Linked DNA regions of Homo sapiens. The protein of the gene in region 1 purifies or fractionates together with the protein of each later gene. This does not show direct contact. Each region holds a gene or a part of one and is shown in the gene's direction. Other genes may lie near its edges. The genes, in order: EDDM3B, CNTNAP3, SEMA6A, NXPE3, CHST12, PLXNA3 and POGLUT1.

The links.
Region 2: the proteins of EDDM3B (region 1) and CNTNAP3 purify together in Homo sapiens (affinity purification with mass spectrometry; one large-scale study listed by BioGRID and IntAct). This does not show direct contact.
Region 3: the proteins of EDDM3B (region 1) and SEMA6A purify together in Homo sapiens (affinity purification with mass spectrometry; one large-scale study listed by BioGRID and IntAct). This does not show direct contact.
Region 4: the proteins of EDDM3B (region 1) and NXPE3 purify together in Homo sapiens (affinity purification with mass spectrometry; one large-scale study listed by BioGRID and IntAct). This does not show direct contact.
Region 5: the proteins of EDDM3B (region 1) and CHST12 purify together in Homo sapiens (affinity purification with mass spectrometry; one large-scale study listed by BioGRID and IntAct). This does not show direct contact.
Region 6: the proteins of EDDM3B (region 1) and PLXNA3 purify together in Homo sapiens (affinity purification with mass spectrometry; one large-scale study listed by BioGRID and IntAct). This does not show direct contact.
Region 7: the proteins of EDDM3B (region 1) and POGLUT1 purify together in Homo sapiens (affinity purification with mass spectrometry; one large-scale study listed by BioGRID and IntAct). This does not show direct contact.

The regions. Positions count from the first base shown.
Region 1 is NC_000014.9:20,766,949-20,771,648, forward strand, and holds EDDM3B (epididymal secretory protein E3-beta precursor), read left to right. Parts: upstream 1-1,455; 5' UTR 1,456-1,558; intron 1,559-3,184; 5' UTR 3,185-3,202; coding exon 3,203-3,646; 3' UTR 3,647-4,000; downstream 4,001-4,700. UniProt on the Homo sapiens protein: Possible function in sperm maturation.
Region 2 is NC_000009.12:39,285,286-39,289,853, reverse strand, and holds the start of CNTNAP3 (contactin-associated protein-like 3 isoform 1 precursor), read left to right. Parts: upstream 1-1,686; 5' UTR 1,687-1,789; coding exon 1,790-1,874; intron 1,875-4,568.
Region 3 is NC_000005.10:116,449,057-116,453,107, reverse strand, and holds part of SEMA6A (semaphorin-6A isoform 2 precursor), read left to right. Parts: intron 1-3,290; exon of another isoform or gene 3,291-3,480; intron 3,481-4,051. UniProt on the Homo sapiens protein: Cell surface receptor for PLXNA2 that plays an important role in cell-cell signaling. Required for normal granule cell migration in the developing cerebellum.
Region 4 is NC_000003.12:101,799,458-101,803,508, forward strand, and holds part of NXPE3 (NXPE family member 3 isoform 1 precursor), read left to right. Parts: intron 1-1,777; coding exon 1,778-2,532; intron 2,533-4,051.
Region 5 is NC_000007.14:2,409,979-2,414,029, forward strand, and holds part of CHST12 (carbohydrate sulfotransferase 12), read left to right. Parts: intron 1-4,051. UniProt on the Homo sapiens protein: Catalyzes the transfer of sulfate to position 4 of the N-acetylgalactosamine (GalNAc) residue of chondroitin and desulfated dermatan sulfate.
Region 6 is NC_000023.11:154,471,397-154,475,447, forward strand, and holds part of PLXNA3 (plexin-A3 precursor), read left to right. Parts: intron 1-91; coding exon 92-242; intron 243-1,193; coding exon 1,194-1,289; 3' UTR 1,290-4,051. UniProt on the Homo sapiens protein: Coreceptor for SEMA3A and SEMA3F. Necessary for signaling by class 3 semaphorins and subsequent remodeling of the cytoskeleton. Plays a role in axon guidance in the developing nervous system.
Region 7 is NC_000003.12:119,489,246-119,493,296, forward strand, and holds part of POGLUT1 (protein O-glucosyltransferase 1 precursor), read left to right. Parts: intron 1-1,305; coding exon 1,306-1,473; intron 1,474-2,272; coding exon 2,273-2,329; intron 2,330-3,036; coding exon 3,037-3,193; 3' UTR 3,194-4,051. UniProt on the Homo sapiens protein: Dual specificity glycosyltransferase that catalyzes the transfer of glucose and xylose from UDP-glucose and UDP-xylose, respectively, to a serine residue found in the consensus sequence of C-X-S-X-P-C.

The DNA.
Region 1 (4,700 bases):
AATTCTCATCAGATGAGTTTTATTTAACCCTGTATATCATGTTTTACTTTCCAACCTGACTCTGGCATAACATTACCAGACAAACAAGAAAAAGTATTTTGCCCCAAAACATGTTTCTTTGCCACATTTTGAAATTGCCCTGCAAAGCTGTTCTTTGTGGGGGAAAATTTGCATCTGTAAAGAATCTCTATTAACATAGCTAAATATTTTTCTTCCAGACCTTCCAATCCTAAAGATATTAATTAAGATCTGAAAGGGAAACATTTGTCATCTATTGTCTCTAAGGGCAGCCACTATAAGACTTCGAAAGAATTGGTCTCTACCATCTTTATTTTAACCTGAATATTCCCTTTCTATCAATCTCAGGTCTTTAGACAAAACTAGTTGTCAACCAGAAAATGTTTAAATACACCTATGGCCTGGAGGCCCTCCACTCCCCATCAGCTTTGAGTTGTCCCGCCTTGCTGGACCAAACCAATGTATTTCTTAAATGTATTTGATTGATGTTTCATGCCTCTCTAAAATGTATAAAACCAGCTGTGCTCCAACCACCTTGGGCACATGTCCTCAGGACCTCCTGAGAGCTGTGTCATAGGCCATGGTCACTCATATTTGGCTCAGAATAAATCTCTTCAAATATTTTACAGAGTTTGACTCTTTTTTTTTTCTTTTCTTTTGTTTTGAAATGGTGTTTTGCTCCTGTTGCCCAGGCTGGAGTGCAATGGCGTGATCTCGGCTCACTGCAACCTCTGCCTCCCAGGTTCAAGCGATTCACCTGCCTCGGCCTCCCAAGTAGCTGGGATTACAGGTGCCCACCACCACGCCCAGCTAATTTTTGTATTTTTAGTAGAGATGGGGTTTCACCACCTCGGCCAGGTAGGTCTTGAACTCCTGACCTCAGGTGATCCTCCCGCCTTGGCCTCCCAAAGTGCTGGGATTACAGGCGTGAGCCACCACACCCAGCTGACTCGTTTCATCGACAATAACAAACTGCCTAGTAAAACTTCAGATACTGGCTACCTAATCATAACTATCTGGCCACCAGTTTCACTAGATACTCTTTCACCTCTCAACGAAAGTCCCACAGTTCACAATGTTATAAGTGGCTTTCTTCAGAGAAGTTTCTGTGTAACATAGCATAACCCTCCAGGGACTTCCCAGAACTTTGTCAGAAATTGAGTGCAGAAGCCAGGTCTCTCGTTGTCTACTGATAGCACCAGATAACCCCTTTCTGGGGTCACCTCACTCTAGGGTCTTGCACTTCTTCTGTGCCCTGGAGTCAGCCTTTGATGTTTGTAGCCTTTGCTTGAGGCCACTGTCTGAATAAACTCAAGTGTTCCAGATGAGAAGATACAGGAACAAGTTCACATAATAAGGCTATTCCCCATCACCACCTCCACTACCAATCAGCTGGAGCCTTGCAGCTCCCCCTGCTATTCCTTTCTCCACTGCTGCAGATTTCCAGGGCCCTGAGGAAAGGAGGACTCAGACTCTGCTCTTCAGATCCACACACTGATCCCAACTACAACCAGTGACCTGAACTTGGAGTCTGAGTAGGGTAAGAAGGGCTCTGCTGAGGATGTTTGGGGGACAGCCAGGAGCACTGAAAGGAGGCTGATTGAACTTTTAGATAGCAAACAATGGAGAAGGATCCAAATCATGGAAAACAAAGGTGTGAATTCTGGTCAGCCTCAGTCCCACTGATACAGGCTTTCCCTGCCCCTCCCTTCCTTCACCCCCAGTCTTCTCAAACACAATGCATTAAAACCGCTTACATCCTGCTCTTCTATCCTCTGTAGGTCTTTATCATCAGGACAGGGTTCCACAGATAGGAAGTACCGACCCTTTGTTCTGTGTCTGATGTGGACATTTGACATCATTAGAAGTGCTCTCAAATACATGCGTCTCATTAGACACTTGCAGGTCTGTAGGGAGCTATTATTAAGTCCATCTGAGGACACCAATGCTCAGAGTTGTGAATCAGGTTAGAGATTCAGTAAGGGCGGGAACACTTCTCATGGTAAATGAGGACAGAGCACTAGTTTAAACGGTAGACTCTTTCAAAAAGATCCCCACACTCCATGCTATCACCACAGAAGCCACTGTGGGGGCTCTTTTAGTCTTGGTGCTTGATTGATTACAGGAATATTTCAAATCTGGAATTCTGGTTGGGTGTAGTGGCTCATGCCTGAGAATCCCAGCACTTTGGGAAACCGAGGTGGGTAGATTACTTGAGGCCAGGATTTTGATACTAGCCTGGCCAACATGGCGAAACATTGTCTCTACTAAAAAAAATACAAAAATTAGCTGTGTGTGGTGGCAGGCACCTATAATCTCAGCTACGTGGGAGGCTGAGACAGAGAATCTATTGAACCCTGGAGGTGAAGGTTGCAGTGAGCCAAGACTGTGCCACTGCACTCCAGCCTGGGTGACACAGTGAGACTCTGTCTCAAAAATAAATAAACAAATAAAAACCTCAAAACTGGAGTTATTTTATGATGACATTTTCAAGGAGCAGCTCTGACAAACCAAGATCATTTGTAATAGTGATAATTAGGGGAATGACCCCTGAGAAGGAATATGGGTAGTTAGTAATGAACATACGTTCCACTCAGGCTTTGGAGAAAGTGTTATAAGGAAGTCAAGATTGGAGAAGCATCATTAAGTAATTGGAGAAGCAGGCAAGAAGTAATTGCAGGCTAGGCTGTCATTTTAGCGAATCGAAGCCTTCCTACCTAGGAACCACTTCCCAAGTAGTTACTCATTTTCTACATTTCCCTAAAATCTGACAACCCTTTCCACTTCAAGGACATAAACCTTAAAATATCATTCTCTTTTGGACACATGATCTCCTGAGAGTTGGTCTGGTAAAAAGGAGCCAGCTGGAGGGTGATTGGCTCCTCAGGTTGGGTGTAAGAGAGGGATGAGAGGAGATGGTTGGAATTCTCAAAATGAACTTCATCTATTTTTTCTAATTATGTGTTTCGCTTACACAGGCTGAAGCGTGTTTTTAGTTCTTAGAAACTCTATTCTCTAATGAGAATTAGCATCTTCTCATCGGGGAACCAAATAGTAAAATTGCACCCAAGTGCCTGCCTGGTGGGGAAGGAATTTTAAGGTGGAGTTCAGCTCTCTGGGCATTGTCTGGATAATGCTTTTCTTTCTCTTCTCTGTGGACACGCAGGCGGCCCCGGTGACTGAGATGGCATCGTCTCTAAAGATCTGGGGCACACTCTTGGCCCTACTTTGCATCCTATGCACACTGCTTGTACAGAGCAAAGAAGTTTCTTGGAGAGAATTCATGAAACAGCACTACTTAAGTCCAAGTCGAGAATTCAGAGAGTACAAATGTGATGTCCTCATGAGAGAAAATGAAGCTCTGAAAGACAAGAGCTCTCACATGTTTATCTATATCTCATGGTACAAAATCGAGCATATATGCACTAGTGACAACTGGATGGATCGCTTCCGAAATGCATATGTATGGGTCCAGAATCCTCTCAAAGTACTCAAGTGTCACCAGGAGAATTCCAAAAATAGCTACACAGAGAGCAGGAGCTTCAACTACATTGAATTCCATTGTAGCATGGACGGGTATGTTGATAGCATAGAAGACCTAAAGATGGTAGAACCTATCGGCAACTAGAAAGTCTATGCACATCCTCAGGTATTGGTAGAGTATTCAGTGCTTTCTAAGTAGCAGCCCCTGCCTCCATCAATAGTCCTACCACTCCCCTCTTGCATTTATTTGTCAATGTTTTCCAAATACTTAGAGTTATGAATAGCATAATTTCTTGATACCATAACTTTGCCTGTGTTGTTTCTCTGCCTGGAATACACTTTTGTCTTCATTTACCTAATTTACTCTTATACTTTTGTCGACATTCAGCTCATATGGCATCTGTTCTTGATTAACCCAAGACTTTCCTGATATTGACTCTCTTGATACATACCCAAGCTGAACAATCTTCCCTTCCCTAAATAAATTATATGACTGCAATGTGTGTGACATTCATATATGTTATGTGCACAGAGTGAGTATAGTGTGATTGATATGGGTGTGTGTGATCTAGACTATGCATGTGATTGATGCTGTGCAAGGGATTGAAGGTGTATTTTATGGGTGCATATCTAATGTATGTAATATGTTTGTGTATATGATGAGGGTATGAATGATTGTGTGCTTAGTTCAAGACAAGTTGTGATGTAGGCATTGATTGCAGCATCAATTTGAAATAATCAAAAGTGTCAGAATCCAGTTTTAAAGAGTTGATTCAAGCAAAAGGCTAGGAGTGGCCATTCGGTAACACACAGACTCCACAGAAATGGAGTCAGTGTTCCAAAGCTGAAAATTAAGTTCTTGCTTATGTAGGAAAAAGACAAAAGAATTTAACAGGATTACAACAATTTCTATAACAGCTGGTTTAAGAGTTACAACAAATTAATTAGTTACAGTTTGTCCCCCAAGTCTTCTTTTCTTTTCTTTATAGTTTTTCATTTCCTTTCCAATTTAAAAGAGTGTATTTAACATTCCATCTTAATGTGATAGCGATGAAGTCTTTCTAAGAGGAGAGGGAAGTTACTCTATCATGAAGATCAACAGTGGAGAGGGAAGGAGTCTTCCCCTGTACCCTTCAGTAATTTACAACATTTCACCGAACAATGCAGGTAAGAAAGAAGGTTTAATCTATAAACATAGA
Region 2 (4,568 bases), on another chromosome or scaffold:
TTGCTGCAACCTCTGCCTCCCGGGTTCAAGCAATTCTCCTGCCTCAGCCTCCCGAGTAGCTGGGACTACAGGCAGGCACCACCACGCCCGGTTAATTTTTTGTATTTTAATAGAGACAGGGTTTCACCGTGTTGGCCAGGATGGGCTCCATCTCCTGACCTCTTGGCCTCCTCCGCCTCCCAAAGTGCTGAGATTACAGGCATGAGCCACTGCACCCGGCCAAGTTCACATTTTTAAAGACTCCATCTGATGCCTGACAAATTGGTATAATAATAGATTGACATTTGTTGTTTTACTCTAGGTCCAATTTAGAAAATGATTTCCATTTTCTCTCTTTCTGTCTCACTGAAGGCAACTGATCTGTCAATCAAAACTTTAGATTTATAATTTTTTCTGTAATAAAAGACGTGCTATTTACAGAGTTCTTGTGCAAAAGTAGTTTAAGTGAACCCAATTAATAATTCAAGAATGACTTTGTAAGATTCTTCATCTATTACATTTGAATTCATTTTACATTTTACATCTATTACATTTGAATTCATTTTAATGAAAAAGCCTTTCAAAGTTGTCTTTCTAAAGGGAAGATTAATACACTATTTCTTAGAGATACCATCTAAAAAAGTATCTTTCTTTCTTTTTTCTTTTTTGGAAACTCGCGGTGGTGGTAATGTGAGTGAGTTTGTCAATCTTTGCCCCTACTGTGAATTTGAGAAGCAGAGGAAGAGAAAAAGAGAAAGACCCCCCCCCCCGCCCCCTGCCTCCGCCCCTCCCTCTAGCACACAGTAGGCGCGCAAGGAGTGCAGTGTTAGCTGCTGCTGGACTGAGCTCCTCATCCTACACTTGCAGGGGTTGCTCTTTTGGACAGAAAGCTGGAATAAAACGTAAATTTTAGACTTCCACCAAGGCCAGGACTAGGGTGAAGGGACTAACGCACTAGTCTCAGGAGCAACTGTTAAGTAACGCTAATCCTGAATGAATGAAATAGTTTTAAAATTGAATGTAATCGCAAAGAAAAAAAAACCCATGATAGACAAAATATTAAAACTTTAAATAAAGGCTTGCACTCGCACAACCCAGGCTCACCGGCCTCTCCCTGCTCCTGGCCCGGTTTCCCAGCTTGGTTCTCTACAAGTCAGAATTCCTAGCAAAATCAAAGTGTGCGCGCGTCTGCCCAAGTACACGCCGCAGAGTTATTTCTGCCCCATCTTCCCTATTTGAACTCAAACAGGACAGCATTTTCCTGGGTGCAGCCCCTGCGTTGGGTGAACAGCGCAGTGATAAAGCCTGGCGTTCTCCACCTGCAGGCGGAGGCTGACGGCGCGGTCTTTGGCGCGAGTCCGTGCACCGCGGCCGCCCCGCCCCGGTGGGAGAGAGGGACGGAGGAAGCTGCCGGTATAACGGGAGGAGAGCGCCAGGCGGAGCTGGGGCGTCCCTCCCGCTCGCTTCTTGACTCGCGTTGCTGCCGGCCGCCTCCCGCGCCTAGTGTCCGGGACGCGCCTGAACCTGCCGCCTCCGTGCCTGGGGTGGCGCCGCGCGGCCCCGAGCGCTCCAGAAAGCTGCGGCGCGAGTCCGCGGGGCCGACCTCGGAGACGCAGCTGGGGCCGGGCGCGGCTTGGCGGGAGGGTCTGCAGCGCCGAGGGAGGCTGCTGGTGCGTGAGGAAGAGAGCTAGAGACTGGACAGGGGAGGCAGAGCAGCGTCAGAGCCGCGCAGGGGACGGGAGTGAGAGCAGGAGCGACGCAGAGCGGCCGTCGCCGTGCCCGGGTCTCAGGGCGCCTGGCTGAAGTGAGCATGGCTTCAGTGGCCTGGGCCGTCCTCAAGGTGCTGCTGCTTCTCCCCACTCAGACTTGGAGCCCCGTGGGAGCAGGAAATCCACGTAAGTACAGCAAATGGTTTAAAACTTGCGCTAGGCTGTCTGGAAAACTTTGTTTTTTTTTTTTTATTATCGGTAATATTTGGAAGTGGAATTGCAGAACATGCTCCTGAACATGAAGAACCTTAAAAAAAATTTGGAATTGCAACCCGAAAAAGACGATTTTGTTTACAATAGACTTTCCTCTTGTGGGGGAGTCTAAGATATACCATGCATGTTTTGACTTTTTAATCGATGTACTTGAATATTCATTGAGAAAGTGGACGTTTCTGTAAAACCTGAAAAGCATCTTAATAAGAGATTAGCGTGCAAATGCTGTCATTTATTCCTTTTTAGGATTGTAATATTTTGTAGGAATTAAGTCTAACAGGGAAAAAACTGGCAGACATTACATCATACTGCATCAACTTAGATGTTAGCAGCTTACAGTTTTGCCGACCTTGGCAGCTTCAGAGTTAAAATGCTAATTAACTTCCATGCAGTATAGGGACAGAGCGCCTGTAGGTGAAACTAAATTAATAACCTGTCCTAACTACTAAGGGAATAACACTTGAACACCCCTGTCAGGGGCTTCGTTTCTCATAGTAGAAAGTTCTTGCTTAAAGACAAAACTCAGCCAGTCATTTAGGTGATCTTGAAAATGATTCCTCTCTGGATGCTAATATTTTACATTATTTAATTTGCCATCAGGTTCCCTGTTTTTTATTTTCCTTAATTTGGTAAACACCTAGGAAGCCTTTATTTCTAGAATGGGCTATGATTCTAATGTAATGATGATATTCCAGACAGATGAGCAAAACATAATGTACCCATATTTTATCACACATAAAAATGTTTACACAACATTGCACATTTTTTTTTTGGCTTGGAGTAAATCTCTAGCAGAGAGTTGTCTTTCTTTCTTGATTAATCAAACCATGAGATTAGAATTTTTAAAATGTCTTCCTCTTCCTTCTCAAATCACTTTTATTTTTCTTTCAGTGGCATCTCCCCGCTGTCAGCCTCAGCCCTCTCCTACCAAAATCTCTTTCGAAATAAGTTCCAATAAACGCCAGTGGCCATGTTTGGAAATTTAGATTATTGCAGGATAACCAAGGGTAGCTTTCAGCAGTTCTCCTAAGCTGTCATGAAAAGTTTGCCGTAGCTCAGTGCTGTTCTGCCCGCGGGCTCAAGGGTGGGTTGGTTCTTCACACACAGGGCACGCACATGGGTTCATGAACTCACTGTGCATCATGATTCAGTTGCGCCTCAGTTAATCCTACACTTGGTGTGCCCTTCCAAAAAACAAGCTCCGGATTCCTTTGGTCAGATGCTGTACCGTGTTTCAGATTCAACTTTAATCTGCTTTTGTGAGAAGGCTTTGTGAATAAAACGTTGTTACTTAAATCAAAATCCTTGGGTCTTGTAATGGAAACTGCCGTTTGGCTTAAACAAACATATAAATGAGCTACTTATAGAAAGGCATGCTAGAGTAATTGACCAATCAACTGGCAAAATACAACAACAAAAAAAGTCACTAGAGGTCACTCTTACTATTGAATAAACAGGGCTTCAAAAAGACCTTCCTGGAGAAAAGCAAAGCAATGAAATCTGAGTGAGACCCTGCCACCACCTTTCCTGTTTTTGTTGCATAGTTGTGATTACTTTTTATTCTCAGGATTAGTTGTATTGGTAGTTATTTTGCTTGGAATCCAGTGGAAGGATTACAAAGCCCATAGAAATTAAGCTCTTCTCGTTTATAGTGAACATTCTTTTTGGAGGAGGGGAGGGCAGGGACAGATATTCCAAATGGACTCAGCACCAGACGGGACTCTCGCGAGTTGCTGAGTGACACGTGAAATTTCAATACTACTACTGTGGGTGTTTTCAGTCTTCTTTCGTTGATGAAACTTAGTATCCTCATATCTAATAAATTTTACTAATTTTAAATTACCTTTTAGATCAAGTAATTCTTCCAGATAAAACTATGTAACTGTAATAATTATACCACCTTCAATACCAAGAAGAAAGTCAATAAGGACATCTAAAAGTTTCCTTCTCATGTAGACACCATGAGTTGCTCACGTTATTCACAGCTGGTTTTCGAGAAGCACATTGGCCACCCACGAAGGCAACCTGTTGATGATGGCATGAAATGGCTCTTCATGGGAAGAGCTCTATAGGCCGGGCACAGTGGCTCGCGTCTGTAATCCCAGCACTTTGGGAGGCCGAGGTGGGTGGATCACCTGAGGTCAGGAGTTGGAGACCAGCTTGGCCACCATGGTGAAACCCTGTCTCTACTAAAAATACAAAAATTAGCCGGGCGTGGTGGCAGGCATCTGTAATCCCAGCTTCTCGGGAGGCTGAGGCAGGAGAATCGCTTGAACCTGGGAGATGGAGGTTGCAGTGAGCCGAGATCCCACCATAGCACTCCAGCCTGGGCAACAAGAGGAAAACACAAAACTCTGTCTCAAAAAAAAAAAGCTTTCTAAACATTTGGCATTTTGGGGATTATGTGCAGTTTATCTGAATGTTATTTGACCCGACAAATACATGGGAAAGCTTTGTTAGGAAGATTCTGCATGAAGGGAAATATTTTCCTAACTTCAGTGCCCATAGACTTGCAGTGAGTGAAAGGTCACTTACTGCTCTCATTGAGTCCCTGAAAACAGCAGGAAGCATCAAGAGAAAGATTGAACGCTGGGCACTGATCCCAGG
Region 3 (4,051 bases), on another chromosome or scaffold:
CCAAGGCTCAGTTCTTGTTGCTCTCTCTGCTCCAGCTAAGATCCTGTGCATCTTTAAGGCTTAGCTCAAATGCCATTTCCAATGTAAAGCTTTTGCCCACTGTTGAAGCAGAAGTGATGTAACTCATGACATAGCCACACTTTGGACAGAGTTGTATGCAAGCACTTGCCTTCTTCCCTGCTGGTTTATGCCTCATTCATCATTGTCCTTCCCCGACACCTAGTGCAGTGCTTGGTAAATGTTTGCTGAAGGCAGCCACAAAGATGCTTGGAGCCAAAACCTTGTTATACTAGGAGAGTGATAATAAAGAAACAACCCAACCCTAAGTTAGGGGAAAACATCATTTCTAAAGCAAATTGTCTCAGAGCCTGGTGCTAGGTTCCCTTTGCACGGAATAGTATCCATGAGCAGGACTACTAGAAAACATTTTTTAAAATAAGGAATGTAGTGTTTGATATTTCAAAATTTATTAACATGGTCATCATAGGAAAAGTCAGAATTGTATTGGGCTTCCTCTTAGTTTTCAGTTTACAATTGTTCTTATTTTGAATCACATGTTGCAGGGTCTAGGGGCAGGGTCCTTCATAATCTTTTCATTGCTTTGGACTCTAAAGAACTTCAAATTTCCTCTCTGAGGTCTCCCTCCAGCATCTGAAAACTCTCACCTCAGGAAAAAAAAAAAAAAACAGTGGAGATTCTATTCTTTCTCAGTTCTGCCAATTTAAGACATGATTTCAGAGAAATCTCTAAGCCAGGGTGTGCCTTGCTTCCTGCAATAGGAAGGTGGAAAGACTAACCATTTAGCACCTTATGACTGGTGAGAAATAGCTGGTGGTTAATGAATCAATGCAAAGGATTTTTCAAATACTGTTTTCATTACTAATGCCCCATTTTCAATTGGTAAGAGCAGAAGAGGATGCAGGGGTTGGCAGAGGAAGGAATTTCAAGACCCTAGGGTAGAGAAGCCAACTCTGATTGTTCTCTCTGCAGTGGGAGGATACCTGCGGAGGGGAGTACACCACCCTCCAAGGGCCCTTTACTTGCCCAGGGCTTCCAGGCAGCATCTGAAGCAAGGGATACTCAGCTCTAGCCTGTTGCCCTTTGCCCTTTGCCCTTTGCAGAGATGCATTTTTTTTTTTTCTAATTATTCAGTTCCACTGGGGCACTCTGTTGTTGTAAATAACCCATTTATCGTCATCGACTCTTTTGGATTTTTCCCAGAACTAATTTCATTTTTGAAATAGTTTCTCTTCTTATTGTTTTGAGCAAATACTGAGCACCATTATAGATTTATTTTTGTTTGTCTGATAGATGCTACTATTAAAATTCTTTTATATGATTGGAGATAGAATTTATTTCCATGACTTCAAAAGCAAGGGTGATAGTCACTCTAAAGATTACCTCCCAAGTTTAGAAGTTCATTTAAAAATAGCTCTACAATGTATTGAAAACCCATTTATTCAGCCATCATTTGTTGAGTTACCCAACTAAGAGCTCTGTGGATGGCAAGGGTTATAAATGCCGAAAAAATGTGGTACTTGCCCAGGATTTGCACTCCACTGAGAATCCAACTATAATTGCCAACATTTTCCACTTCTGTTGTTTTAATTATTTCAAAATTCAGTAACTATAGGCATCCTGAAACAGTATGCATTCCCTTATATTGCTTCGAAATCTCATATCACCTTTTTGACTACATTTAGAAGGCACGAAGTTTGGACCTGGAAGCACAGGTCTACTCCTCTCCCATGGGAGACCAATAGCAAATGGAATCCAATGGAGCAGCTGCGACTATCACTTGGAAGCCCTCTGTGAGCCACTAACCCACCACTTCTCCTTTGTGGCTTCTTTTGAGCTTTAGATTTGTCCAGCAAACTACAGCATTTAAGCTCTTTCCTATTTTTTATTTCCTTTGATTCTTGTAACAATCCAGTAAGGCAGTAAGATTAGGTGTGTTCACCTCATGCTACAGATAAAAAAACTGAGGCCCAGAGATGTTAAGTCACTTGCCAAAAGGTCACCCAGCCAGTAAGTGGGAGCCTGCAATTCCAAGCCCACTGAGATCTTCTCTAGCTGCTTTTATCACCACTACTGACAAGTCTGCTGTTTCCAAGCCTTCACAATGGCTATTCCACAAAGTTGACTTGATCATTTCTGTGAATGCTTCTTTGGCCTTTTTCATGATATAAGCAGAAAGCTTTAAGTTTGAAAGGCATTTCCAAAAATAACGTTTACCTTATCTTCTTCAACTGCACTTTCAACTTACTCTCTGATCTGTTTCCATCTTTGGACGTTTCTGAATTTACACAAGCAGATGAGGAAAGCCCTCTGCCTCCCCATGGATAGATGAAGACATGCAAAAATGTTTTTAAGGCCACTCTTTATATAACAAAATGAGACGGGGGAAAAAATCTGTCTGAGATACCATTTTCCTGAAAGGTCAGATCCTACTTAACTTGTTAACAACCAAAAACCTGAACTCAAATATCATCCACTAAAAAAGAGTTCTTCCCAGTGAAAGAATAAGTAGCTTTCATGAGTCTAAAATAGCCAAGGACCTTCAGACATGAAAGAAGAATGATATTTGGGAGCTAAAAGTAAGGCTAAGAAGCAATGGATACATGTGAAAAATTTGCAGTTTTCCCAGTGAAACCAATGAATTGCTCTAGCTTTACTCTTTCCACGTTCCTTTTAAACTGAGAGGGCAGTTTAAATTGTAGAATGCCAAAGTCAATTGTAAATAGCTTCCTATTATAATACACATTTATTGGGAATATCCAGTCCCCCTAAATTTGGTAGCCTGGAAGGGTTTCATGAAATACTCATTGCCATGAAAAAAACACCTAATACACCCCCACCCCATTACTGGGGCCGTCTAGCCTGTGTTCAACTCCCACTGAAATCACCAAGTCAATGAGAGAAATTAAAACCATTTTATCCACAGGTGTACATTTTTGTGCAATTATATGTAGGGGGTTAAAAACGGTGTTCGGTAGAACCCCATACATAATCAAAATTGAAGAAAAATCAGTAGCTATTTTAGCATAATAAGGAAATGCAAATTTAAGAAAGAAAATTTTCATTAGCACATTTCCTTGGTGAATAGGTACTAAAATATATTTGAATGCAGGACACCCCACTGTTTGGGGAGCTTCACACATAAAAGGTGTGAGTTACAGCCAAATTTCCGGCTGTTTTTTGCTTCTCAGTTTCTACCCCTTAAAAGCTGATGGAGATAAATCTGGAAATATTTGAAAAGTATCACATTTGAAAATTATTTGATATCTTACCGTCTTGTACACTCTTTCCTTATGGTGAATTGCCTTGACTGCCTTTTATTACCAAGGGTATTTGTTGGATCACAGAATCTTTATTTCTTAAGAGATATTTGCTGCTTCTACTTAAGTCACAATCCTTTGTCACAGGACAATCATTTCCACAGCAACCAACTGTGATGTCACAATTGAAGGGAGGAGGACCCTTAGGAAGGAAAGAAAAAGAGAATGTACTTTTCAGGCTAAGGTTTCTGGGTTTTAAAACCATCACTTCAGAAATCAAAATATTTTAGCAGAAAAACCCCCATGAGAAAGCTTCAAGGTCTCGGCTGTGACAAAGACAACATTTCAGTAGAAGTTTAAGGTTGCGTGTTGTGGGCTTGGGAAGGGGTAGAGATCTTTATTTCCTTTCATTCTAATTCTGTGCCACTGATACCTGCCAGTAAAATACATGAAACATATTCCAGAAAGAGTTGATTTAGTAGATGAAAAATGCGTCTCCCGAGACCAGAGAAGGTACCTTTTCTGTCTTGCTATCATTTCCATAATAGGAACAATGTTTACATTTCCTCAGCCCATGCAGTGCCTCTAATGTATTCATGTTCTTTCACTCTCCAGAGGCAGGAATTGAGGTATTAGAGATTTTATTTTTTAGCGACTGCATCAAGCACTTAAGATCTGACAACTGTGATGTGTATTCTCACTTGGTATTAAAAAATAAAAGCTTCTGTGTTTGCATTTGATTAGAGTCACTCAGCTGGGTGGCTGATTAAGCA
Region 4 (4,051 bases), on another chromosome or scaffold:
ATTCTGTCGCCCAGCCTGGAGTGCAGTGGCGCGATCTTGGCTCACTGCAACCTCTGCCTCCTGGGTTCAAGCAGTTCTCTCCCTCAGCCTTCCGAGTAGTTGGGATTACAGGCGCCTGCCACCACACTCAGCTAATTTTTGTATTTTTAGTAGAGATGGGGTTTCAGCATGTTGGCCAGGCTGGTCTTGAACTCCTGACCTTGTGATCCATCTGCCTCGGCCTCCCAAAGTGCTGGGATTACAGGTGTGAGCCACCGCATCTGGCCTACTTCATTCTTTTATATTTGATTTCCACTAGTTATAATATTACTTTTGCATCATTAGGTGCATTCTTTATGGATTGTATCCTTCAAGGAATTGGTCCATTTCATCTGGGTTATCAAATTTATGGGCATAGAATTGTTCATAATATTCCTTTATTCCTTTAATGTCCATGGGATCTGTAGTGATGGCTTCTCTTTCATTTCTGATATTAATAATTTGTGTCCTCCCTCTTTTTTTCTTAGCCTGGGTAGAGGGCTTATCAATTTTATCAATCTTTTAAAAAACCAGCTTTGGGTTTCATTGATTTTTCTTTATTGATTTCCTGTTTTCAAGTTCATTGATTTCTGCTATCATGTTTATTATTTTTCTTCTGCTTATTTTGGATATTGTTTGCTCTTCTTTTTCTAGTTTGCTAAGATGTAAGGTTAAATTACTGATTTTAGGTTGTTTTTCTTTCCTAAAATATGTATAGTACTATGAATTTCCCTCTAAGCACTTCTCTTGCTTCATTCTATAGTGTTTAATGAATTATATTTTCACCTTCACCTAGTTAACATATTTTTAAATTTCTCATGAGATTTTGTATGTTACCCATTTGTATACCATTTTGGGATTTTTCCAGCTCTCTTTCTATTATTGATTTCTAGTTTAATTTCATTATGGCTTAAGAGAAGACACTGTATGATTTTTATTTTAAAAAATTTTTAAGGTGTATTTTATGGCCCAAAATGTGGTCCGTTTTGGTGAATGTTCCATGTGAGCTTGATATGAAGTAGTTTACAGATGTCAACTATATCCAGTTTATTGATGGTGCTGTTGAATTCAACTATGTCCTTACCGATTTTCTGCCTGCTGGATCTGTGTATTTCTGATAGAGGATTGTTGAAGTTTCAGACTATAATGTAGATTCATCTATTTCTCCATTAGTTTTTGCCTCACATGTTTTGATACTCATTGGTTAGGTACATACATGTTAAGGGTTGTTTTTTTTTTTGGAGAATTGACTCCTTTATTATTATGTAATGACCCTCTTTATCTTTGCTAACCTTCCTTGCTTTGAAATCTGCTCTGTCTGAAATTAATATAACTACTACTGGTTTCTTTGGATTAGTGTTAGCATGGTATATCTTTCTCCATTCCTTTACTTTTTTCTTGGTGTTTCTCCATCTTAGGTTGGACTGGGTGGCTCGAGTGGGCTGGAGTTGGATATTTCCCTTCTCTCAAGTTGGTTAGGCTCTGATAAAACTCCAATAGGCTAGGTTCTGATAAAGTGGTTTCTCTTGAGGGGCAGCTTTGTTAAGAACAACACAGTGCTCTGCATACTTCAAAATGGGTCCTTTTCCCTTTCTCTTCCCGGAAGCCCAAGGGGATTTTTCTTTGATATTCACTGTGAGAATCTGATTGAGCTCCTGGAGCTAAAACTCACAGAAGTGTGGGGAGCCCTCTGAATTTATGCCAAAATACAGAGACCTATTATAGTGGTAATTTCTGTTGTTTGTGTCTTCTTCTTCAGTACTTGGACCATGAGACTGTTTCAGCCACTTTCATCGACAGCAGTGGACAGTTTGTTTCCTCCCAGGTGACAGGAATTAGCCGAAATCCCTACTGTGGCTATGATCAGCAGACCCTGTCCAGCCAGGAGCGCATGGAGGAGGACTCCTTGCTGGCTGCCTTGCACCGGCAGGTTCCTGATGTGGGCCCAGTCCCCTTTGTGAAGAGCACTGACCCTTCTTCCAGCTACTTTGTCATCTTGAACTCTGCTGCCTTCTTTAAGGTGGGAAGCCAGCTTGAGGTGCTGGTTCATGTGCAGGATTTTCAAAGAAAGCCCAAGAAGTATGGTGGAGACTACCTGCAGGCCAGAATTCACTCCCTCAAGCTGCAGGCTGGGGCTGTGGGCAGGGTGGTGGATTACCAGAATGGGTTTTACAAGGTTTTCTTTACTTTGCTATGGCCAGGCAAAGTTAAAGTATCCGTATCTCTGGTCCACCCCAGTGAAGGGATCAGAGTTCTTCAGCGCTTACAGGAAGATAAACCAGACAGGGTCTATTTCAAGAGTCTCTTCCGTTCAGGAAGAATTTCTGAAACTACTGAGTGCAACGTGTGTCTTCCTGGGAATCTGCCCCTGTGTAACTTTACAGACCTCTACACTGGGGAGCCCTGGTTCTGCTTCAAACCAAAGAAGCTCCCTTGCAGCAGCAGAATTACCCATTTCAAAGGTGGATACCTGAAAGGTCTCCTAACCGCTGCAGAGAGTGCTTTCTTCCAGAGGTATGTACTGCTTTTTCTTGGGGATGATTTGAAGAGTTCTTTTCCACTGTCCTTGTCCCATTTAGGAGACTTTCTGGTATTCGGTATGTGTTTCTTACCTCTCTCTCAACTTGGCCCAATACAGAAGAGGTAGTGAATAAAAAAAAAAACATAGATTTGTATTTTTCATTAGTGTTTTAAAAATGAAGCTTAATGCTTATCTGAGTCCAAATTAAAGACCTTTTACCCTTGAATTTTTGTTCTTTACCCTCATATCTGTGTTTTCCTTTAGAACCACATAGCATGTTTACACAGTAGCTGTGTAAGTAAAATCCCTTATTCACAGAACAGATAGAAGTTATCTAAGGGTCAGATGTGGTGACTCATGCTTGTAATCCCAGCACTTTGGGAGGCTGAAACGGGAGGATCGCTTGAGCCCAGGAGTTTGAGACCAGCCTGGGCAACATAGCAAGACCCCATCTATTTTATGTAAAGAAAAAAATAATCCAAGAACAGGGCTGGTAGGGCTGGTAGTCAGGCTGGTGTTTTATCTTTGTATCTAATGAACTGAAACTTTAAAAAGTAACATAATAACAGTTTTTAAAATCATTTGAACCTACTGATTAAAAAACTATGAATATGGCAACATTGCTGGGTTGACTTAATAAGCATAGGAAGTCAGGAATACCACAGAAAACTATATTTTTTAAGCTAAATAGTTGTTGAAATTATTGCAGTATTGTGTTCAAATTTCTATTTCAAATGTAAGCTTAAAATATTTTCAGCATGATGAGAAATACATGGAATAATGTGCAGAAAGGAATATGGAACCAGTATGAATTAAAATTTGTGTTTTCTTCAACATTCCATAACATCACTAAGAAATAAAAAATTATAAAAGCTACATGGTTAAAAAGTACCATGCTGGCCAAGCGTGGTGGCTCATGACTGTAGTCCCAGCACTTTGGGAGGCTGAGGTGGGAGGAAGGCTGGAGCCCAGGAGTTTGAGGTTGCAGTGAGCTGTGATCACAATTGCACTACAGCCTGGACAACAGAGTGAGACCCTGTCTCAACAAAAAGTACAATTGTTTGAAAGAATGTATACATGTTTTTTACTTTTTAGTGAAATATATTGTTTTTAAACATTCCTTGGTAGAGAGAATTTTTTTGTTGGATAAAAGGGAGGTATTTTTGTTAAGGATATCTGGGCACCCTAAAAATTTCATACTTTATGTCCACTCATTACCGTATGGGAGAAAAGTTGCTACCATAAAGTATGTGGTTTGTAGGAGCTCCTAAAATAAAACTCTTCAGTTTTCCACCCTGAAGTCAGCTTTTGGTCATACCAGATTATGTACATATGTAGTGGGTTCATGCCATACTTTTAGAAGGCCAGCAGAGGGAGCACTACTCAATGTACAGTGTTTACTGTACTGCTGAGAAGACTAGTATTTTCTATGGCTCAGTACAAAATGAAAACAAAATTAAATTTCACAACTCCTCAAAACAAAACCAAAACAAAATTTTTCATTTTATTCGT
Region 5 (4,051 bases), on another chromosome or scaffold:
ACTCTGTCACTCAGGCTGGAGTGCAGTGATATGATCTCATTGCAGCCTCTGTTTCCTGAGTTCAAGCAATTATGATTACAGGCCTGAGCCGCCACGCCCGGCCGAGCGCTTTCTTTCGTCGTTTTCCAAGGGGGTTTTAAAACATACCGACCAGTAGAGAGAGCAGTATTATACATCATCCTTCACCTGTCCCCAAGTTTCAGAAATTAGGCAATCAGAGTTTGTCTGGTTTTTGTTAGAACATCACCTCTTTCTTGAGCAAGTACTGAGTGCCAGATGCTACTGTAAGCCTTGAGAATACCCGCTGTGAGGCAGGACGAGGACCTCCCTTTTAAGTCAGTGCAGGAAGACAGTGAGTGGATTAACTGGTGTATATGAGCTATTTGAGGCCAGGCATGGTGGCTCACGCCTGTAATCCTGACATTTTGGGAGGCTGAGGCAGGAGGATGGCTTGAGCCCAGCAGTTCAGGGATTCTGCGATTGCACCACTGCACTCCAGCCTGGGTGACACAGTGAGACACTACTCTAAAAATAATAAATAAAAGATTTGAGGTAGGGATGGGATAAATGCTGCTATGAAGAAAACCAGGGTATGGGGAGTGCAGGGTAGAGACTGGGATCTACTTTCTCAGGGTGGTTAGGGAAGGCTTGCTGAGGAGGTGAGCGTCAAGCAGAGATCTGAAGGAAGCGTGGGACTGCCCTGGGATTCCCCAGCTGAGGGATGGTGGTGCAGAGGCCCAGCAGCAGGAGCCTGCTGGGTGCGGTGGATGAACGGCAAGGAGACTGTTGAGGCTGGAGAGGGTCGCCGAGGGGGACTGTGATAGAAGAGGAGATCAGTGGAGTCCTGGTCACGGGCCATCAGAAGGACTCGAGATAGGAAGCCACTGATCCAACTTTTAATAGAATAACCGTGGCTTTGGGGTTGAAAATGGATTGTGTGGGCCTGAGAGCAGAAGCAGGGAGACTGGTTTGGAGCCTGTTGCAATAACGCAGGTGAGAGCTGATGGTGATTGGGGCAGGGTGGGGTGTAGGTAGGGCAGAGGGGACTTGACAAGTTAGAGCCTGGATAACTATTTACTTTTTTAAATTATTTATTTATTTATTTTTAAATTTTGAGATGAGATCTCACTCTGTCATCCAGGCTGGAGGGCTGGAGTACAGTGGTGTGATCATAGTTCACTGCAGCCTCAGCCTCCTGGGCTTAAGAGATCCTCCCACCTCAGCCTCCTGAGTAGCTGGGACTACAGGTGTATACTACCATACCTGGCTAATTTTTAAATTTTTGTACAGATGGCTTCTTGGTATGTTGCGCAAGCTGATCTTGAACTCCTGGTCTCAAAATATTATCCTGCCTTGGCCACCTAAAGTGTTGGGATTACAGGCATCAGCCACTGCACCTGGCTGAGCCTGGATATATTTTGCATGTAAAGCCCCAAGCAGGTTCTTAAACTGATCATAGTGAGATTTATTATCATTTTCTTCTGAAATAATTTCTTTGAGTTAACTTAACTCTTTTTTTTTTTTTTTTTTGAGACGGAGTCTCACTGTTGGCCAGGCTGGAGTGCAGTGGGGCAATCTTGACTCACTGCAACCTCCACCTCCTGGGTTCAAGCAATTGTCTCTGCCTCAGCCTCTCAAGTAGCTGGGATGATAGGTGCCAGCCACCACACCCAGCTACTTTTTGTATTTAGTAGAGACAGGGTTTTGCCATGTTGGCCAGGCTGGTCTCCTGACCTCAGGTGATCCACCCAGCTTGGCTTCCCAAAGTGCTGGGATTACAGGCGTGAGCCACTGTGCCCAGCCACGAATTGATTTAACTCTTAAGTCAGTTGAGTCAAGTGAGTTATCGTTTGGATTCTAGAGTCAAATACCTATGCAACAAATATTTGAGCCTTATGAGGAATACAGAAGGTACATGAGATATGATCCCTGTCTTCTAAGAACTTGAAACCCAGTTTGGGAATATTGGACTGGTATACGTGCGTGGATTTCCTGTCTACCTGGGAAGGGCCAACAGAGGGCTTAGAGACGGGAAGGAAGAGAACAGGGTGAGCTGATAGCCTCTGTGCTCTAGGACCGGCTCTGCAGGGAAGTTACTTTACTTCAAAGGCTAAGTTTGGGCTCAGTTTTCATTCAGGTCTCCTGGGATATAAATCAACATTCCATTCTCATCAATGTGACCGTTAATTACATATTTTTATTTGGATATACTGTCAGATATAGTTAACTGAACACAAATGAAGTAATTGTATAAGCAAATAAACCATAGTCCTGGAGGTACCGCGTGAAAATGTGTCTCACGATGGAGGTTTTAATGTAGTACCACTGTGTGTAAGTTCCAGGCAGCCCAGGACATGCAGAGAGCAAATATTGACACCAGGAACAGAAACTTTCCACATTTTTGTTGACTACAGCGATGGGAACTGCAGTGAATTATTTGCCTTATATAGTGTCTGTAAAGCTGGAAAAGAAGTAGGTAGTTTCTGGTCTTTGTGTCAGTAGCATAAATAAATAAACTTGAAACATTCTTGCGCTTCTTATTGAAGGTCATGTCACTTGATTTAGTGCTCAAGAGCTTGGTTATTTGGACACGAAGAAGCTACTTCCCTCAGCAGTAAAGGAAATAGAAATTTGACTGTCTAGTGAAACCTACCAATTCTGCCTAAACATATACTGTAGAGGCCAGCAGAGCAGAGTGGCAAGGAAGGGGGGCTCTCCAACAACAGCCTGAGTTCTGAGGCCAGCTCTAAACACTGCTAGCTATGTAGACTTGTGCAAGTCTGTAGCTACTTTTCCCAGTTTCATCCCAGTTCATGTGAGGATTAAACAAAGTAATATGTGCAAAGCCCTTAGAACATCACTTTTAACAACATGTTAGCTATTGGTATTGTTATTTTAAAATCAATTTGCAAATAGACAGTTTTTTTTTTTTTGACTTGATAACTGGCTCTTGGTAGAAAGCATGAGTAATAATAAAAATAACACATATTTGTGTAACAAATATTTGAGCCTGATGAAGACAGAGAGATAAGTAAGGCCGGGGCAGATTCTAAAGAAAGTGCTTTACTATTTTATCAACCACTTAGCTGTGTTTTCTCATTTTTGTGCTCTCGGTAGCTCTGGTTAGCAGAAAGGCCTAGTTTGTTCTTCTTTTGTAGATGGACTGAAAGTCAGACATAAAATGACTTGGCCCAGGCCACTCAGCAGAGGCCGGACTTGGTCTCAGTATCCCTTCCCTCTTCCTCCCAGTCCCTCCGTGTCTGTGCGGAACTCTGCACTGGTGTTTTCTTCTGTACTGTGGAAATTGGTGAGAGCTGGGCCATTGCATTCATATTAGAGAGAGAAGTGTTAGCCTCTGGAGATCAGCTTCATAAAACCACAAACATTTTCTTTTTAACTTTAAATCAAATGTATTGAGTATGATTTACATGCAATAAAACGTACCCATTTTAAGTATGCAGTTTGAGGAACGTGGCCAAACATATTCACCTTGTACCTGCCTCTGCAATCAAACAGTAGAGCATTTCCATCGCCCCGAGTTTCTGCGTGCTCCTCTGCAGTCTATGATTTTCATCACGATTTTGGCCTCTTTTAAATGTCATATAAATGGAACCACAGAACATGCAGTCTTTTACGTCTGGCTCCTTTTTCAGTGTGCGACCTGTGGCGTTCACCCATGAATCAGCACTTCACCCTTTTTACACTCACTTGCTGATGTACATTGGGGTTGTTTTCAGGTTTTAGCTTTTTTTTTTTTTTTTTTTTTTTGAGACAGAGTCTCCCTCTGTCGCCCAGGCTGGAGTGCAGTGGCGTGATCTTGGCTCACTGCAACCTCTGCCTCCTGGGTTCAAGTGATTCTCCTGCCTCAGCCTCCCGAGTAGCTGGGATCACAGGCACCCACCACCACACCCAGCTAATTTTTGTATTTTTAGTAGAGATGGGGTTTCACCATGTTGGCCAGGCTGGTCTTGAACTTCTGACCTCAGGTGATCCACCCACCTCGGCCTCCCAAAGTGCTGGGATTACGGGCATGAGCCACCACGCCCGGCCA
Region 6 (4,051 bases), on another chromosome or scaffold:
AGGCAGGAAGCCCGGGGGCTGGCTGGGCAGTGAGGGCAGGGGTTCTAGTTTTTGTGATGTCGCCTGAGTGACATACTCAGGGTCCCAACAGGTATTATCGAGACATTGCAAAGATGGCATCCATCAGCGACCAGGACATGGATGCCTACCTGGTGGAGCAGTCCCGCCTCCACGCCAGCGACTTCAGCGTCCTGAGTGCGCTCAACGAGCTGTATTTCTATGTCACCAAGTACCGCCAGGAGGTGTGTGTCATCCCCACAGACTCCCAGTTACTTGGTCCTGAAGGTGCAGCCAGTGACAAAGGCAGGAGGGTTGGTGGGGGTTGGGGATTGTTCACGGTCTCTCCCCTGACCAGGGCCTGGGGCCGGCACAGGTGATGCTCTCTGGGATCACAGGTAGATGCTGGAATTTGAGGGACCCAGGAGATAAGCCACTGGCTGGGTACAAAGTGGCCACTGGGCAAAAGTTAAAGGGCCTGAGCACTGGAAGGGATGGGTCAGGCTTTGTGATGAGAAATAGCCAGAGGCAGGAGGACATAGAGGTGTGGACTTTAGGATGGAGTCTGGGCTGGACACATTTGCAAGCCTGTGGATGGCATTTAAAGCCCTGAGCCTGGATGAGCTCACAGGGAAGCCACAAGTGGGTGTGGAGGGAGAAGCGGCCCAAACACTGAGCCCAGGGCCCCAGGACACAAAGAGGGGAGGGGAGGGGAGGTGCAGCAGCCAGCGGGGAGGATGCCTGAGAGCGCCTGGTGGGGTCTGGCAACCTGAGCCAGTGAGGACCCCTCACAGGTCAGGGAGTGGCAGTGGCCGGCTCCATCTTCCAGTGCTGCTGCTGGTGAAGGATGGTGACCTGCAGAACACTCACTGGGTCTGGCGAGGGTCACGGGGTCCTGGCGCGAGGGAGGCTTGGGCTAGGAGGTAATGGGAGGGGGAATCCAGCACGGCGAGTCCAGAGTCCAGGTCACTCTAGGGACAGGCCGCACCCTAGCTGTGGAGAGGAGGAGGAGAAAGTGCTGTCGTCGGAGGGGCATTTGGGGCTGGGGAGAGCTGGTGGGTTTGTACAGGGGCTGCGGGGGAGGACGGAGGGATGAGGCGTGTGGGAGGGAGGAGCCCAGCTGGGAAGTGGGGACTTTGCATGGCAGGAGCTGCGCCCCCTACAGAGCCCAGCTCCAGGGGACTCCTCTCCCCCAGATTCTCACGGCTCTGGACCGAGATGCCTCTTGTCGGAAGCATAAGTTGCGGCAGAAACTGGAACAGATCATCAGCCTCGTGTCCAGCGACAGCTAAGGTGGTGGAATCGGTGAGGAGGGGGCTTCTCAGTCCTGTGCCGTCCTCCCATCCAGGGGAGTGGCTGGCTCAAGCCTGGGTCCCCGGGCTGAGCCCTGGATTGGGTATCGTGGGGCAGGTCACCCTGGCCACGATGCCCCCGGCACACCCAGGCCCCCTTCATTAGTGCCTTGCTTTGGGCCCTGCAGGGGGAGGGGTGACAGGGCGAGCCCCCACCCCAGCAGCAGCAATACCCCCACCCTCCTGCCCTGTGCCCAGGTGTTGGGACAGTCCCACCCTCCCTGCTATTTATATCCCTCTGCCTATTTATTGAATCGAACTTCGCCTCTGTCTCCATCTGTAAATATGTGTCCCCCCACCGGATGTCGCCACCCTCACTCACCTGCCTCTTCTTGAGCTGTCCTGGGCCCTGCCACCCGTCTGGGCTCCTTTGTGTAGCATTATCAGCCTCGGTCTGGCCTCTGGCACCTCACCCTTGCCATGGCTGACCCCACCCATTCCAAGGCGGGGTCACGGTACCAGCAGCACTTGGGGTGAGGCCTCCAAAGCTTCCTCAGAATTGTGGCTGTGCCACGCTGGACCACAGGGTCCCCCTCAAGCATCTCGGGGCCCTATTCTCTCTGAGCACCTGGAGGGCTGGACTCAGGCTTGTGCCAGGGCCTGACTTGGGCCTGGGGGCCCTAGAACGCTCCTCCTCCTGAGCCTACTGCCAAACGTCCTCAGTGTTGTCTGCACCTGCTCCGACTCCTTCAGCCGCCCCATTCAGCGCCCGCTCCGTCCAGTGCCCGCCCTGTGGGGCCAAGGCGGCCGTGCCTTACTACTCTGTGTCTTCTGCCTCCTCTGAGGAATCTGGCCCTGTCTGACAGTCCCAGACCCCCCGTTCTCTCCTCTTTAGTTGCATGAGTTTTTCTTTGTTCATGGAATGTTTTTTCCTGATTAAATGTTGGGGAAATGCCATCCATGTGGGGCTCTGTCCTTGGGGCAGGTCAGTAGACCTGTGGATGCTGCATGAGCTGGAGCCCCATTGTGGGAGAAAGGACCACTCCTTGCAGGGTCCCAGAGGGTTTGGGGAGGTTCAGGGCCATACCCGACCCATCAGCAAACCCCGGTGGCTCTACCTTCAAGACAGATTCAAGGTAGATAGATTCTCCTCCCTTCCACCACCCCCACCCAGCTCTCCTGTGCCATCGTCTATCTCTGCCTGGATGCCAGTCTCCCTGCTTCTGCCCTGGCTCTCTTCAGCCTGTTCTCAGCGTGGGAGGCAGAGAGATCCTGTTATGATATAAGGTGGATCATGTTGCCTCACTGTTTAGAACCCTCCGGCGGTTTCAGCTGCAGCCAGCTCCTTCAAAACCTGACAATTGCATACTGTCGAGGTTGTGGCACCCATCATGGTGCACCTACCAAAGTCTTACTCCCAGGCCTGTTAAGTAATGCAGGTGGGGAGAAGGTGACATGCAATTTATTTATTTATTTATTTTGAGACAGAGTGTAGCTGTGTTGCCCAGGCTGGAGTGCAGTGGCAAGATCACAGCTCAGTGCAGTCTCAAACTCCTGGGCTCAAGTGATCCTCCCACCTCAGCCTCCTGAATAGCTGGGTGTATTAGTGCACTCTACTATGCCAGGCTTTTTTTTTTTTTTTTTTTGAGATAGGTTGCCGCTATGTTGTTCAGGCTGGTCTTGAATTCCTGGTCTCAAGTGATCCTCACCCCTCAGCCTCCCAAAGTATTGGGATTACAGGCATGAGCCACTGTGCCCGGCCAGGTGAGATGGAATCTTATTTTTACTTTTTATGTTTTTTTTTTTTTCTTTGACGGAGTGTCGCTCTGTCGCCCAGGCTGGAGTGCAGTGGCATGATCTCGGCTCACTGCAAGCTCCGCCTCCCAGGTTCACGCCATTCTCCTGCCTCAGCCTCCCGAATAGCTGGAACTACAGGTGCCCACCACCACGCCCGGCTAATTTTTTGTATTTTTAGTAGAGACGGGGTTTTACTGTGTTAGCCAGGATGGTCTCGATCTCCTGACCTCGTGATCCACCTGCCTCAGCCTCCCAAAGTGCTGGGATTACAGGCGTGAGCCACCATGCCTGACCTTTTTTTTTTTTTTTTTTTTTTTTTTTTTTGGAGACGGGATCTTGCCCTGTTGCCCACGCTGGAGTGCAGTGGCAAAATCAACTCACTGCAGCCTTGATGTCCTGGGCTCAAGTGATCTTCCTGCCTCAGCCTTCTGAGTAGCTAGGATTACAAGTGCTTGCCACCATACCCAGCTGTTTTTTGTTTTTTTTTTTTTTCTTTAGTAGAGATGGAGTCTTGCTGGTTTTGAACCTCCTGGGCTCAAGTGATCCTCCTGTTTTGGCCTCCCAAAATTCTGGGATTACAGTTGTGAGCCACTGTGCCCAGCCAAGTGAGATGCAATTTTTTTTTTTTTTTTTTTTGAGACAGAGTTTCACTCTTGTTGCCCAGGCTGGAGTGCAATGGTATGATCTTGGCTCACCGCAACCTCCGCCTCCCGGGTTCAAGTGATTCTCCTGCCTCAGCCTCCTGAGTAGCTGAGATTACAGGCATGTGCCACCACGCCCAGCTAATTTTGTATTTTTAGTAGACACAGGGTTTCTCCATGTTGGTCAGGCTGGTCTCGAGCTCCCGACCTCAGGTGATCCGCCCGCCTCAGCCTCCCAAAGTGCTGGGATTACAGGCATGAGCCACTGTTCCTGGCCTTTCTTCTTTTTTTGTTTTTGTTTTTTTTTGAGATGCAATTTTAAAT
Region 7 (4,051 bases), on another chromosome or scaffold:
TGCCCCACCCACCCAATCATTGAAGTTAGAATAAATATTTCTCAGTTAATAAATATTAGAATTATTATCCTGGTGTGCTGGCATGCTCCTGTAGTCTTAGCTACTCGGGAGGCTGAGGTAGGAGGATCCTTTGAGCCCAAGAGTTCAAGACCAGCCTGGGCTACATAGTGAGACCCTGTCTCTAAGAGAAATAAAATAAAATTCTGGGACTAAGAATTAGATGAACAGGTAAAACCAGGTCTAGAGGAGGGCAGTGGTGGTGGGGGTGGCTCAGAGTTAGGAGTGCTAATGACACGCAGAGTAGGAGCTATATGGTGAAAGCAACTCTGGTTGGCGACAGGTGCGTGCATAAGAAATGCTGAGAAGAAGACAGCTTTTTTTGTTTTTTTTTTTTCCCCTGTGGGCAATCTCTGAAAATTGATTAGGTTTTCCTCATTCTCCTCTCTACACCAGGGGTCCCCAACCCCCTGCCATGGTACTGGTCTATTAGGAACCAGGCTGCATGGCAGGAGGTGAGCAGTGGGGAAGCGAGCATTACCGCCTGAGCTCTGCCTTCTGTCAGATCAGCCTTGGCATTAGATTCTCATAGGAGCACAAACTGTATTGTGAACTGTGTATGCAAGGGATCAAGGTTGCGTGCTCCTTATGAGAATCTAACTAATGCCTGATGATCTGAGGTGGAACAGTTTCATCCAAAACCATCTCCCCCACACTACCCATCCATGGAAAAATTGTCTCCCATGAAACTGGTCCCTGGTGCCAAAGAGGTTGGGGACCGCTGCTCTATACTTTAAGAGAAGAGGGTGATGTCCAGGAAGCAGTGGAGACCTTCGACCAGATGGGGTACACTAGAGGAAAAACAAGGCTTTGGGAGGCCATGACTAGTTAGAGACATTAGGCCTAGAAAAGCTTGTGAAATTTTTTTCACTCGTTTTATTTTATGTTTACCATTGAACATTTATTTTCTCAGATATGTTCCAAATCTACAAGCTGTCATTTCCTTCTGAGCCCTGTATACACTCTACCCGGCACCCAGCTCCTGACCCTATCTAGTGCTGTCTGGAGAAAATATCCCCTATTTTTCCTCACCCTGCCATTCCCAGAACAACCTGTAGTCCTAGCCCTGGTAAAGTGGCTGATAGAAACCACTTAGGAACATATTAATGTGTCCTTGAAAACTCAAAGTGGAAAGAGAATGGAGAGGAATCATAAAAGGAAAGAAGGGGAGGGGAGAATAAGCATAAAAGGTCATATTTGTGGCAGCAGGCATATAGTATCAAATGTATTTTGTTCTTTTTTCCCCAGGTATCTGTTTAATTTTCGAGGCGTAGCTGCAAGTTTCCGGTTTAAACACCTCTTCCTGTGTGGCTCACTTGTTTTCCATGTTGGTGATGAGTGGCTAGAATTCTTCTATCCACAGCTGAAGCCATGGGTTCACTATATCCCAGTCAAAACAGATCTCTCCAATGTCCAGTAAGCAGTTATCCCCCAATGCAGAGTTTCTAAAGACCCTTCCAATCTGCTTTTAAAAATGCCTTAATGCCTTAAAACCAGTCATGTAAGACATTTAGTCCTACGATTTTTTTCCATTGAAAGCTTTTTTTCCTCTTGGTTTGCATATATAGTATTGCATTATTATCCAAGTAGGCTATAAGTGGAATTTAATTTGAAAAAGCGCTTTAATACTGGTTTCAAATGAAACGTTCAGACAAAATGAAGTTAAAAAGCTCTAATCTCTCCAAGACTAAAGATAGGGATATTCAATCTTATTATATTGTCAAAAGGATTTTCAGATACAGCATGAGAATTGACTCAAGTGAAGCTTCAGCAAATTTCCTTTCATGACAGGAGGAGCTAGGAAGAAGTATAGAGAAGGGCCAGAGTTATCTGAATATTGTTATCATGGTGATATCTGTGTATATATATTTTTTTTCTATATATAAATATATTTATATATAAATATGTAAAATAATATAAATATCTAATATAATATATAATATAAATATACAAAATATATGTAAATATATAAGGTAACTTCTGTATTTTCTCAAATATGTCCCAAATCTACAATAGGGTATCTTTAATCAGTGTGTGGGGGTTTTTTTTTGTTATTATTTTGTTCTTGAGAGAACCCTGATATCTTTGCTTGAAGGAAATAATCCACCATCCACATACCTAAAATTATCCATAGACCTCAATCTATATCGTCTTTCTGACTTAGTGCCAATGAAGTTGGTCTATATTTCACAGTCTAAAATTCTTTTCATTTTAGAGAGCTGTTACAATTTGTAAAAGCAAATGATGATGTAGCTCAAGAGATTGCTGAAAGGTGAGTTCTGTTCATTTTCCCTTTTCCACTTTACTTTTTGTCATCCCCATTATGCCCTAGCCAAAGTTATCTGAATATTGTTATCATGGTGACATCTGTATTTTATCCTCATTATATGGAGATAATTCAGAACTAAACCTGTCCTGGGGGAAAACATACACACATGTCTACATATGCTTGTTTTAAAGGAAAAAGATGGGCCGGGCGTGGTGGCTAACGCCTGTAATCCCAGCACTCTGGAAGGCCGAGGTGGGCGGATCACCTGAGGTCAGAAGTTCAAGACCAGCCTAGCCATGGTGAAACCCCATCTCTACTAGAAATACAAAAAAATTAGCCGGGTGTGGTGGTGCGTGCCTGTAATCCCAGCTACTCGGGAGGCTGAGGCAGGAGAATCACTTGAACCCGGGAGGCGGAGGTTGCAGTGAGCCAAGATCGCACCATTGCGCTCCAGCATGAGCAACAAGAGCGAAACTCCGTCTCAAAAAATAAATAAATAAATAAATAAATAAAGGAAAAAGATTGTTAAGTTGTATTGCTACATGCATGTATGTGGATATGATTGCCATAGGGTTGGTTCTTGAGGCTCAAATGAATTAATTTATATAAAATGCTGAATAATGCTTGGCACAAGGTGAGCACTCAAATGCAGACTGCTATTATCATTAAATTCTGTGCTTTAACATTTTCTTGTTAAATCTTGTCTCTAGGGGAAGCCAGTTTATTAGGAACCATTTGCAGATGGATGACATCACCTGTTACTGGGAGAACCTCTTGAGTGAATACTCTAAATTCCTGTCTTATAATGTAACGAGAAGGAAAGGTTATGATCAAATTATTCCCAAAATGTTGAAAACTGAACTATAGTAGTCATCATAGGACCATAGTCCTCTTTGTGGCAACAGATCTCAGATATCCTACGGTGAGAAGCTTACCATAAGCTTGGCACCTATACCTTGAATATCTGCTATCAAGCCAAATACCTGGTTTTCCTTATCATGCTGCACCCAGAGCAACTCTTGAGAAAGATTTAAAATGTGTCTAATACACTGATATGAAGCAGTTCAACTTTTTGGATGAATAAGGACCAGAAATCGTGAGATGTGGATTTTGAACCCAACTCTACCTTTCATTTTCTTAAGACCAATCACAGCTTGTGCCTCAGATCATCCACCTGTGTGAGTCCATCACTGTGAAATTGACTGTGTCCATGTGATGATGCCCTTTGTCCCATTATTTGGAGCAGAAAATTCGTCATTTGGAAGTAGTACAACTCATTGCTGGAATTGTGAAATTATTCAAGGCGTGATCTCTGTCACTTTATTTTAATGTAGGAAACCCTATGGGGTTTATGAAAAATACTTGGGGATCATTCTCTGAATGGTCTAAGGAAGCGGTAGCCATGCCATGCAATGATGTAGGAGTTCTCTTTTGTAAAACCATAAACTGTGTTACTCAGGAGGTTTCTATAATGCCACATAGAAAGAGGCCAATTGCATGAGTAATTATTGCAATTGGATTTCAGGTTCCCTTTTTGTGCCTTCATGCCCTACTTCTTAATGCCTCTCTAAAGCCAAAAAAAAAAAAAAAGACAAAGCCTCTTAATAAATTTAATGGAACTATACATAGAACAGCAGCTCTTCCTCACCCTTTGCATACCTTTAATATTTTTCCTTCTTAAATTGGCCACAGCAGGGGTCATTCACACTCTCACTGTCTTGCAGG